Homo sapiens: one gene and its partners. The protein of the gene in region 2 interacts with the protein of the main gene of each other region in a pairwise test. Each region holds a gene or a part of one and is shown on either strand. Other genes may lie near its edges.

Evidence for each region.
Region 1: the proteins of HSD17B14 (region 2) and MIA3 interact in a two-hybrid assay, tested with the Homo sapiens proteins (one large-scale study listed by BioGRID and IntAct).
Region 3: the proteins of HSD17B14 (region 2) and OTUD3 interact in binary tests that used the Homo sapiens proteins (3 or more experiments, as listed by UniProt).

The regions. Positions count from the first base shown.
Region 1 is NC_000001.11:222,649,063-222,652,714, reverse strand, and holds part of MIA3 (transport and Golgi organization protein 1 homolog isoform 1 precursor), read right to left. Parts: intron 2,424-3,652; coding exon 2,335-2,423; intron 2,082-2,334; coding exon 2,004-2,081; intron 1,923-2,003; coding exon 1,812-1,922; intron 739-1,811; coding exon 667-738; intron 488-666; coding exon 383-487; intron 1-382.
Region 2 is NC_000019.10:48,829,902-48,833,553, reverse strand, and holds part of HSD17B14 (L-fucose dehydrogenase), read left to right. Parts: intron 1-821; coding exon 822-888; intron 889-1,794; coding exon 1,795-1,886; intron 1,887-3,652. UniProt on the Homo sapiens protein: Catalyzes the NAD(+)-dependent oxidation of L-fucose, yielding L-fucono-1,5-lactone, which rapidly converts spontaneously to L-fucone-1,4-lactone. Can also act on D-arabinose and L-galactose, with lower catalytic efficiency. Does not use NADPH.
Region 3 is NC_000001.11:19,888,895-19,892,546, reverse strand, and holds part of OTUD3 (OTU domain-containing protein 3), read right to left. Parts: exon of another isoform or gene 2,388-3,652; coding exon of another isoform or gene 2,350-2,387; intron 2,344-2,349; exon of another isoform or gene 2,163-2,343; coding exon 2,014-2,162; intron 1-2,013.

The DNA of each region.
Region 1 (3,652 bases), on a different chromosome or scaffold from region 2:
GTCCACACTCCTGATCATGTAACCTTCCCTTGGCTAGTGAAGCAGTAACTACTCAAAGGAGGGTTATAAAATATCTAACTCTTGGGTCTAAAAAGCCAATCTACTACCCACTCGAGGCTACTCAAGTTAATAGCAATTGGTGTCTGACAAAACAAGACTACACACTCTGATAGCCAAAATAAATTGTACAGAACAGAAAATCCAGAACAGATAGAGAATGTATACCTACACTCAATTTTGGAAGCATAGTTTAAACTTTGCATATCTAAGAACAGAATCCTGCACATATATTACCCTAAAAATAGATCTGAGTAAAGGCATTCATGAGGTATGATACTGAGTTCTCTATTTTACATGACCTGGGACACGCACTTTCCTTTACCTGCTCTTTTTTCTTCTTAAGCCTAGCATTTTCTTCTTGAACCCGATGGCATTCAGACTTCACCTTCTCTTCACTAAGCTTAGCTTCATTAAGTGCAATCTGAACCTAATGCAAAACACTCCTATTAGTGAATTAATTCCAAAGAAAACCAGAAAAAGTTACTTTTCCAACCCAACATCATGTAGTTTTCATTTTTTGCACATTTTAGCATATATCAAATTTTTGCTCTGCAATCAAACTATGATATAGTATTAATATCCTGCAGGAATTACAGTCAGCTTTACCTCTGAAAATTCTGAGGCATTCATTGAAATAACATCCTTTAACTTCTCTATAGATTTCTTGTTTTCTGATATCTGCCATGTAAAAACAGAACACAAAATGCATATTAGGATTTTAGTAGAAACACTGGGATACATACTAAGAAGAAGAAACATCAACAAAGTATGTCCCAGAGCCATCCCCTATGTTTCAGGTAAAAGCAGGTGTTTCAGTTTTGCCCTCGGGAAAAATCAAGAACTTAAAGAGGTAAGGGAAAATAATCAAAGGCATAAATATTTCACAGCATACACAACCTTCCTGGTTAGAATAAAATGTGGTAGATGACCAGACTAAAAGGTGAAAGAAAAGAAACTGAAAAAACTTTTAAGTAAACCAGTTCAAATCAATGTGACTTTTTTTTTTCTTGTGGCAAGAGAAAAAAATAATCCCCAAGGTACTTTAATTTAGTACAATTTGACAATTGTTTTGTCAAACACCAATTGCTCTTGCCTAAATTAAAAATGGTAGGATTGGAGTGAGAATAGACAGATCACCCATATAGAATTCTAGATAATTTATGAAGATTCTGGCTCCTCAAGAGGATGGAGCATAACCCTTCACTTTTTAACTGTGGGCTGCGATAGTAACTTCCTTCCAAAGAGTACAATAATGCAAAAAGTTTAAAAAAAAAAAAAGTAATTTTACAGTGAAGAAACCTGGCAATACTACCTCAACGAGGTCATCAAGATTAATAGGGTGTGGGATTTATGGAACCCTCTCTACTATCTTTGCAACTTTTAGGTCATTCTAAAACTATTCTATTAATAAAATAAAATGTTTATAGCAAAAAAAAAAAAAAACTTTGCAAAACAAAACAAAACACAAGGACTGTTCAACTGGGTTTCTTAGTTGTTCCACATGTTTCGGAGGGCAGAGCCAAGCAATATGACAATTACCTAGGGTTGAGAACCAAAATACTTCCTAGGCCTGTAAGAATAATTTCTTGTGTAAGTACTTAAAATTCCACAAAAATGGACAGAAGTAGGTTCAACTTCCCTGACTCGCACTCTTACTTCACATAACAGCATGGAAAATAAAGAGTTCAACTCAATCTACAAAAGAGTTCAAAACCCAAATTATTAGTAATACTTAGCAGCAAAACTCTTACCAAGTCCTGATTCTTGACATTCTGTTCTCTCTCAGATTCTAGCATAACACGAAGATTTTTAGCTGTGTCATCCAGAATTTCCTGATTTTTTTCAAGTGTCTTGATTTTATCCTACAAAAAAGATATTAAGGTTAGTTATACTCATTACTTTTACTTTTGTTTTAAAATGTAATCCCCAAAAGAAGTTTTTACCTTATATTTAATTGCTTCATCAGAGAGAATCATATTTTGTTTCCTGGTTTCCTGAACATGTTTCTTTGATTCCTTGATCTATATAAAATAAAGCATTCAGAATCCAGAAATATAAAGTATAGTGCTACCAGAACTTATTTTCAAGTGACTGACCTCTTACAGAAGAAAACAGTACTTTACACATATGACTGCTTAAGATCTGGATGGTTTATAGGAATTAATGTAATAATAAATACTATTTAAAAATACCATAGTAACTGAACTATAAGATAGGTGACAAATAATTCAAGCTGGGACCATGAAAAAAAAAAAAAACAAAGAATAATCATACCTTCTGTTCATAATTTGACAATTTTTGTACAAGTTCTGTATTTTCTTTCATGATAGTCTTCAACTTCTCAGAAATTTGCTGTTCCGTGACTGAAAAAAGAAAAAAATAATAAGGTTATTATGATCACTAAATGAAATTGAATTACCCAATGTATCAGCAGCAAAGACATGTTATCTTGCACTATGACAAAAAATAACTTCTCAGCATAACTATTATGGTTTTAAAAAGTGATATGGTTTGGTTCTGTGTCTCCATCAAATCTCATAACAAATTATAGTACCCAGTGTTCAGGTGGGGCCTGGTGGAAGGTGATTGGATCATAAGGGTAGATTTCTCATGAGTGGTTTATCACCATCCCTGTGGTGCTATTCTGTGATGGTGACTGAGTTCTTGTGGAATCTGGTTTTAAAAGTGTGCAGCACCTCCCCGCTCACTCTCTCTTGCTCCTGCTCCCACCATGTAAGATGGCCTGCTCTCGCTTTGCCTTCTGCTGTGAGTAAAAGCTCCCTGAGGCCTCCTCAGAAGCAGATGCCGCTATACTTCCTATAGCCTGCAGAAACATGAGCTAATTAAACTTCTTATAAATTACCCAGTATCAGGTATTTCTTTTTTTGAGACAGGGTCTTGCTCTGTTGTCCAGGCTGGAGTTTAGTGGTGCAATCTCAGCTCACTGCAAAGTCCGCCTCCCAAGCTCAAGCAATCCTCCTGCCTCAGCCTCCTGAGTAGCTGGGACTACAGGTGTGTGCCACCACACCCAGCTAACTTTTATATTTTTTTTATAGAGATGGGGTTTCTCCATGTTGCCCAGGCTGGTCTCGAACTCCTGAGCTCAAGCAATCCTCCGCTTTGGCCTCCCAAAGTGTTGGGATTACAGGCATGAGCCACCACACCAGGCCTTGGGTATTTCTTTATAGCAGTGTGAGAACAGATTAATACAAAAAGCAATCTGCTAACAAGAATAAGGATGTAAAAATACGGTTAGAATTTAAGAAAAATATAATAAGAACCTTTATTTCAATGAGAGTTTAATTTATTTCCAAGATGGGAAATACAGTAAAATGTTATAGCTCAATATTCCTCCCTGCATGAAGCATCTTTCTTCTCAGAAAATGGCATCACTTCAAATATGTCATTTGCAAAGAGAAACAGAAAATGCAGGCGTGCTGATTTATATTTCTAGTTCTCAAATTATCTACTTAAATAAATATTTAATGTACTGACTAAATCATTAGCACAGGGACACTGGTCACATGTAATAAATTGGTACTACATCAACATTTAAGGTCAATCTGCCCCAAATTAATGATCTTCTCCCTAC
Region 2 (3,652 bases):
TGTCTGGCTAATTTTTGTAGTTTTAGTAGAGACAGGGTTTCACCATGTTGGCCAGGCTGGTCTCGAACTCCTGACCTCAGGTGATCCGCCCACCTCAGCCTCCCAAAGTGTTGGGATTACAGGTGTGAGCCACTGCACGTGGCCTGTATGTAACTGATTTTTTCTCCATTATTTCTGGGTTCCTATTTCTTCCTTTTAATCAGTATCTCTCTGTTATCTGCCCCCCTTGGGCAACTGTCCCCTACGCGCTCTCTGAATCCTTGTCACCCCCCTGCCCCACCCCCTGACCCTGGGTGTGACGACTGCAGTGTGGCTCTGACCAGCCCCCTGTCTCCTTCCTGTCTCCTGCTTGCCTGCTGTGTCTGCTGATCTCGGAGTCCCCTCTTCCTCTAGCTCTTGTCCCCTGACCTGGGAGTTCAGCTTCCCCCTCCTGCCTTGCATTTGGGAGCCCTGTCTTCTTTATGGCTGGACACCCCATCTACTGCTCATTCAAAGGACATTTCCTGGGCTGGGCGTGGTACCTGTAATTCCAGCACTTTGGGAGGCTGAGGCGGGTGGATCACTTGAGCTCAGGAGTTTGAGACCAGCCTGGCTAACCTAGTGAATCCCTGTCTCTACTAAAAAGTACAAAAATTAGCCGGGCGTGGTGGCAGTCGCCTGTAATCCCAGCTACTTGGGAGGCTGAGGTAGGAGAGTTGCTTGAACGCAGGAGGCTGAAGTTGCAGTGAGCCAAGATCGTGCCAATGCACTCCAGCCTGAGTGACAAGAGGGAGACACCGTCTCCAAAAAAAAAAAACAAAGGACATTTCCTTTCTCCTCAGACCCTGGTTTCTGAGACCATCCGCCGATTTGGCCGCCTGGATTGTGTTGTCAACAACGCTGGCCACCGTGAGTTGTGAGACCCCAGGGCCATTCTCCACCTCCTGCCCCCCAACTCTGTTTCCTGCACGTCAGTTTCCCCACTCCCTGCCCCTGATTCCCTCATCCTGCCTCATACCTCTTTCTAGCCACTTGGACAGGAGAGTAAAGCAATGGAAGCCCCCCAGGCCTGTGCTGAAACTGTGGCCCTGTTCCATCCCTCCTGTGTGTCCCCAGGGCTGTGCCCTCACTTGGCCATGTCTCTCTTCTTTTCTTTTCTTTTTTCTTCTCTTCTCTTCTTTCTTTTCTTTTTTTTTCAGATGGAGTCGCACTCTGTCGTCCAGGCTGGAGTGCAGTGGTGTGATCTCAGCTCACTGCAACCTCTGCCTCTTGGGTTCAAGCGATTCTCCTGCCTCAGCCTCCCAAGTAGCTGGGATTACAGGCGCCCACCAGCACGCCAGGCTAATTTTTATATTTTTAGTAGAGATGGGGTTCATCATGTTAGCCAGGCTGGTCTTGAACTCCTGACCTCAGATGATCTGCCCACCTCGGCCTCCCCAAATGCTGGGATTACAGGCATGAGCCACTGCACCCGGCTTTTTTTTTTTTTTTTTTTCTGAGATGGGGTCTCACTCTGTCGCCCAGGCTGGAGTGCAGTGGCTCGATCTAGGCTCACTGCAACCTGCACCTCCCAGGTTCAAGCAATTCTCCTGCCTCAGCCTCCTGAGTAGCTGGGAATATAGGCACCCGCCACCACACCCAGCTAATTTTTGTATTTTTCGTAGAGACAGGGTTTTGCCCTGTCAGCCAGGTTGGTCTTGAACTCCTGACCTCATGATCCGCCTGCCTCAGCCTCCCAAAGTGCTGGGATTACAGGCGTGGGCAACTGTGTCCAGCCCCCGTCACTTTTCCTCTCTCTCTCACCCCCCACTTTAGACCCACCCCCACAGAGGCCTGAGGAGACCTCTGCCCAGGGATTCCGCCAGCTGCTGGAGCTGAACCTACTGGGGACGTACACCTTGACCAAGGTGAGGGCTGGCGACCCTGCCGCCAGGCCCGAGCAGCCTCCTGATAGGTGGATTGTGTGATGCATTTTGTCTAAGAGCAAAATGTTTTCCGTTCTTTTTATTTGTTTGTTTGTTGGAGACAGGGTCTCTCTCTGTCGCCCAGGCTGGAGGACAGTGGTGTGATCTCAGCTCACTGCAACCTCCACCTCCTGGGTTCAAGCGATTCTCGTGCCTCAGCCTCCTGAGTAACTGGGATTACAGGTGCGGGCCACAAAACCAGCTAAATTTCATAATTTTTGGTAGCTATGCTTCTGACTGCAAGTGATCTGCCTGCCTTGGCCTTCCAAAGTGCTGGGATTACAGACTTGAGTCACCACGCCTGGCCATCTATTTTCTGTTATTTAGTTTAATCTCCTTATTCCAAAAGGAAGATAAATGACTGCGAATCTCTACATCCAGCAAATCTACCTTTGTAGCTACATAGCCCAGTCTTAGGAACCTTCTAGAACCTTCCAGACTGGTGGTGGTAGGAGGGGATGTTAAGAACATATTGGGGCCAGACACAGTGGCTCACACCTTTAATCCCAGTGCTTTGGGAGGTCCTTGTGGGAGGTTCACTTGAGGTCAGGAGTTCAAGACAGCTGGGGCAATACAGCGAAACCCCCCATCTCTACAAAAAGTTTAAAAAATTAGGCGTAGTGGTGCCCTTGTAGTCCCAGCTACTCAGGTGGCTGAGGTGGGAGGATCGTTTGAGCCCAGGAAGTCAAGGCTGCCATGAGCTATGTACACACCACTGCATACAGCCTGGGCAACATTGCAAGATGCTGTCTCAAAAATAAATAAATAAATAAATAAATAAATAAATAGGCCAGGTCCAGTAGCTCACAGCTGTAATCCCAGCACTTTGGGAGGCCGAGGCAAGAGGATCCCTTAAGCCCAGGAATTCGAGACTAGCCTGGGCAACATAGTGAAACCCTCGTCTCTACAAAAAATACGGAAATTACCTGAGCATGGTGGTGCGCCTCAGGTACTTGGGAGGCTGAGGCGGGAGGATTGCTTTGTTGTAACCGAGCGAGTTATAGAGAAACGCCACACTCTGAGACAAGATCAGGAGTCCTTTATTAGCCGGCAGCCCAGAGACGGCTAGCGCTCAAAATTCTCTCGGCCCCGAAGAAGGGGCTAGATTTTCTTTTATACTTTGGTTTAGAAAGGGGAGGGGGGAGTCTAGTTAAAACAATCTTACAGAAGTAAAGCAGGCAAAAAAAGTTAGAAAGATAAATGGTTACAGGAAAGCAGACAGTTCCAGGTGCAGGGGCTTTAAACACATCCCAAGGTGATAGACGCTGGACGTTGGGCGCTATCAACCAGACAGAAACGCGGGGGCTTAGGGTACTATTAATCGGGCGACTGCCTGGGAACTGCGGATATAACTTGCCACAGTATCTTATCAGTAATTGCATTCTTTGATGTGCTGGGAGTCAGCTTGCACAAGTTAAGTCCTTGAAGAAAGGGGGGTTGGGTTAAGGGGCTGCAAGTGAAGGAGCCAGGATGGAGTCTGTCTGGCTCGCTCACCTAAGGGAGAGTCAATTCAGGTTAAAACAAGGTTAGGGTATCACAGCTTGAGCCCAGGAGGCGGAGGTTGCAGTGAGCTGAGATCGTGCAACTGCACTCCAGCCTAGGTGACAGAGTGAGACCTTGTCTCAAAAAAAAAATAATTCATTAATTAATTTTTAAAAAGAGCATGGAGTCCAGGCATGGTGGCTTACGCCTGTAATCCCAGCACTTTG
Region 3 (3,652 bases), on a different chromosome or scaffold from region 2:
CACAGTCTAAAAGAAAAGAATAATCCTAAAGATACAGCCAGATGCAAGGGTGACCAGGTCCTTAATAGTATAGTGAACCATTCATTTATTCACTTTATGAATGTCTACCAGATGCCGGGCACTGCCACACCGCAAAACAAAGACACACAGTCCCTGCCCTTGAGAATCTCACAGTACAACAAGGTAGGCAGCACACTGACATTAAAAACAGGTAACTATGACTCAAGACTCACCAATGTAACAAGCCAAGCCTTCAACTGACACACAAAGAGAATGTGCAGACTTCCAGGTTTCTTTTCATTTCTGCTCTGGCCGTCAAAGTGACTTCTTACTTCTGTGATGCTCAAATTCTTAAGCAGCTCCAAGCAACAGGCATGCATAGTGACATTTCAAGAAAACACCTTTCCACTGTTCATCTCAAGTGACTATCACATTGGCAACCGAAGATTTGAGTTCCCTATCCTGTAACACCCCAAAATCCACCATGTGATCTTCACTGACAGTGTTCAAAGTGGAGTTTCACATCACAAACTAAAAACCCGTTTCATCCAAAATGATGTTTTCATTGGATTAATGACACAATTCATTTCGTACAGCACTAAACTACAAAATTTGTCCCATATACAAACATTTAATTTGTAAACTGCTGACTATCCAGTAAACTATGCATATCTGCTAGCCAAAAAGTAATCCCAGGAAGAGGGACCATCTGAACTCAGTGATTGGTACAAACCACCCATTGGAAGTTTTGTTGCTCTGTGTCTGGTGCCTACTGAGTAAGTTCTTTCCTAGTAAGGAATGGGAAACACTTTGGGATCACTGATACCTTTTCTCCCAAATGTCCCCCTCCTGCTGCCCTCTCTCTTGCTAACGGTACAGCCAATTACCCATTCCCTAAGCAGAAACTTCAGAATCACTCTTGTCTCCTCCCTCTCCCCTCCTCACCTCCAATGTGTCCTGTCAATTATACTGCCAAAGTGTGGCTTGGTTTGGGCCTTACTCATTATCCTCAGTAGCTACCTTGATGGAGACCTCCTCTACTCTCATCTGGCCAGTGTGGAGACCTTCTAACTAGTCTCCTTTATCAGTCTCTCTCCCCATCCATTCTTGGCATGGCCTCCAGACTTAGCTCTCTAAAACAAAGGATCAATTCTCTTTCCTGATAACAGACAGAAAAGACTATAAGCCCTGTGATGAAAATGCCATTTGTAAGACATATCAGCAGCAAGCACAGTAGATCCTCAGTAAATATTTGTTGAAATTAAAGTTTACAAGTTCATATGCATTTTCTATAAGATCTATGCCTATTAAATAGGAACCAATTAAAATCACTAACTGACTTGCCTCAAAGAAAACAGATTGTGTTTGGGGTTTGGGTGAGAAATTAACATGATTTTATTGGTTTTTCTAATTTTAAAAGTAATACATGATCATCTAAAAGTCAGAAAAAGTCTATAAAAGATAATTTAAAATACCATAGTCCCATCATCCCCAGATGGCTAACGCTTACTAAGGGCTTATTTTAATTTTGTTATCTAATTTAATCTTCACCAAAAACCCTGTGAGATAGATGCTATTATTATCTCCCTTCTATAGAAGTTTAAAGAGAATGAGTAATTTCTGAAAAATAAGTGAAGCTAAGAATTAACAAACAAAATGTTAGTATCTTTCCAGACTTTTCCTACTGTGTCTGTATACCTTTTAAAAATAGGATCAACCTATACAAGCTATGTTATAGCCTGCTTTTCCCACCCCACAGAGTAAGAAGTCATGAATCGCTTTTCAGGTCAATTAATACCATCATGTTTATTAAGGGCATATACAGCTAAACCTACTGATCCCCAACTACCTAGCATACTGCCGATAACCAAGTAGGCAAACAAATATTTCTTGAATAAATGAATGTCGTGATTTATATAACCAAACCCTTGGCTGGGAGGGGGGAGGATGCCAGTGGACTTAATTACCCAATGCATTACTCCTGAAGGACACAATGTCCCACAGTGAACCTACCATGCTTCTCAAAAGGAATGTCATCTTCTACAAAGGGTTCAAAATCTTCCCGCTGCTTTATCATGTAGTCCACTGTCTCCTGTCTGTGCTTGAGATGATTTCGTGAGTGTCCCTCCAATTGATCACCAAGAGCTCTGAACAAGCAATTGCTGTCAAAACAACAACACGAGTCAAGACCTTTCAAAAATGAACTTAGTTCGTCTAAAACAATGATGCTTCATGCCAGATCATCCATGGAAATATTTTGTGCACACAGAGGTAAAGACTCAACTCTAATAGTCCAGGATTCTTCCAAGACCACGGGGGACAGCATGAGGGCATATTCAACCATATTACCTTCTTGAGAGGCAGCAAACAAGGATTCTATTCCCCATGTACCAGCTGGCTGACTCAGGAGAGTCATCAAACTTCCCTGGGCCTCAGCTGCTTCAACAAGTGGAGCCGGTGATACACTAACCACCTTACTACAAGGTCCAGACCTTATAGGCCATTCCATGCCTAAGGGCTATGATTTACAGATCCTCTTCCAAAATCATGTCCTATCTACAGCCTCTTTTCTAAAACAAGTTCCACTACAGCTACCCAGCTAAGTAATCATTCATTTAACAAATAGTACCCAAAAAATAGCAATTTGTCAAGCTGCCAATACTAACAACTGAACAATACTCTGTTTGAGTCCTAAGAACATAGTGGAGAAAGTCATGAGAAGGAAAGCACTTGGACAACAAACAGTTGTACTATGGAAAGACACTTCCTCCTTGCCTCCTCACTTAGCACCCAGGGAGCAACAATGCCATTGTTATTCCTGCCAAATGAAAACTTTAAACACCACATTTTGTTTCTCTAAAATTAAAATACTGGTAATAAACTGTAAGAGTTATCTTTACTTTCAAACCCCTCAAAGGCTTCTAAATTCCGAACTATCACAAACACAGAGGCTTAGATACACAGAGACTCAAACAAGACAAACACAATCTGGTATCCTTAAAACTACAGAAATAAACAATTCTGAAGCCAAACAGTTGTCCAGTTTTACACCCAACTGTTTACTCTTCCAAATGAAAAACTATGATACTGTAATTCCAAAGTATAAACTCATCACTTTCAGAAAGATTTCATGTCTAAATGTGTAGGAAAAAAGGGGGTTTTGTTTTTCAACTCAGAAAAGTGAATTTTCAACAGAAAGCTATAGAAAGGCTGGAATCTCTTCTAATGTATAAGAATATATACTTTTTTTTTTTTTGCAGGGGAGGGGAGAATTAAGACAGCTTCTATAAATTAAAAACCAAGAAGCTTTCCAACAATCTAAGACAAGATTCTAGAAGGAGTGGAATATAGAGTTCTGTAGGCTAGACTGAGGTGTCTTGCTAAAATCTGACAATGGCAGTCTTTTTTCAACCATGGAGAAAAGTAAGTTAATCGATAAAACAATTTAAATGTCAAGCTTTTCCCTCAAACTTTTCTTAATCAGCATCTGCCACCACTAGCCTATTCTTGAATTTAGTTTAAGAGATGTGATTTATCACAAATTTATGTAGTTATTTTACATTTAATGTACCAAAATTCATGGTATTCTACAGTTACATGTTTGCTAGGAACTTTTAATAACATGAGCAAATGTTCTCCAAAAAAGTAGGTG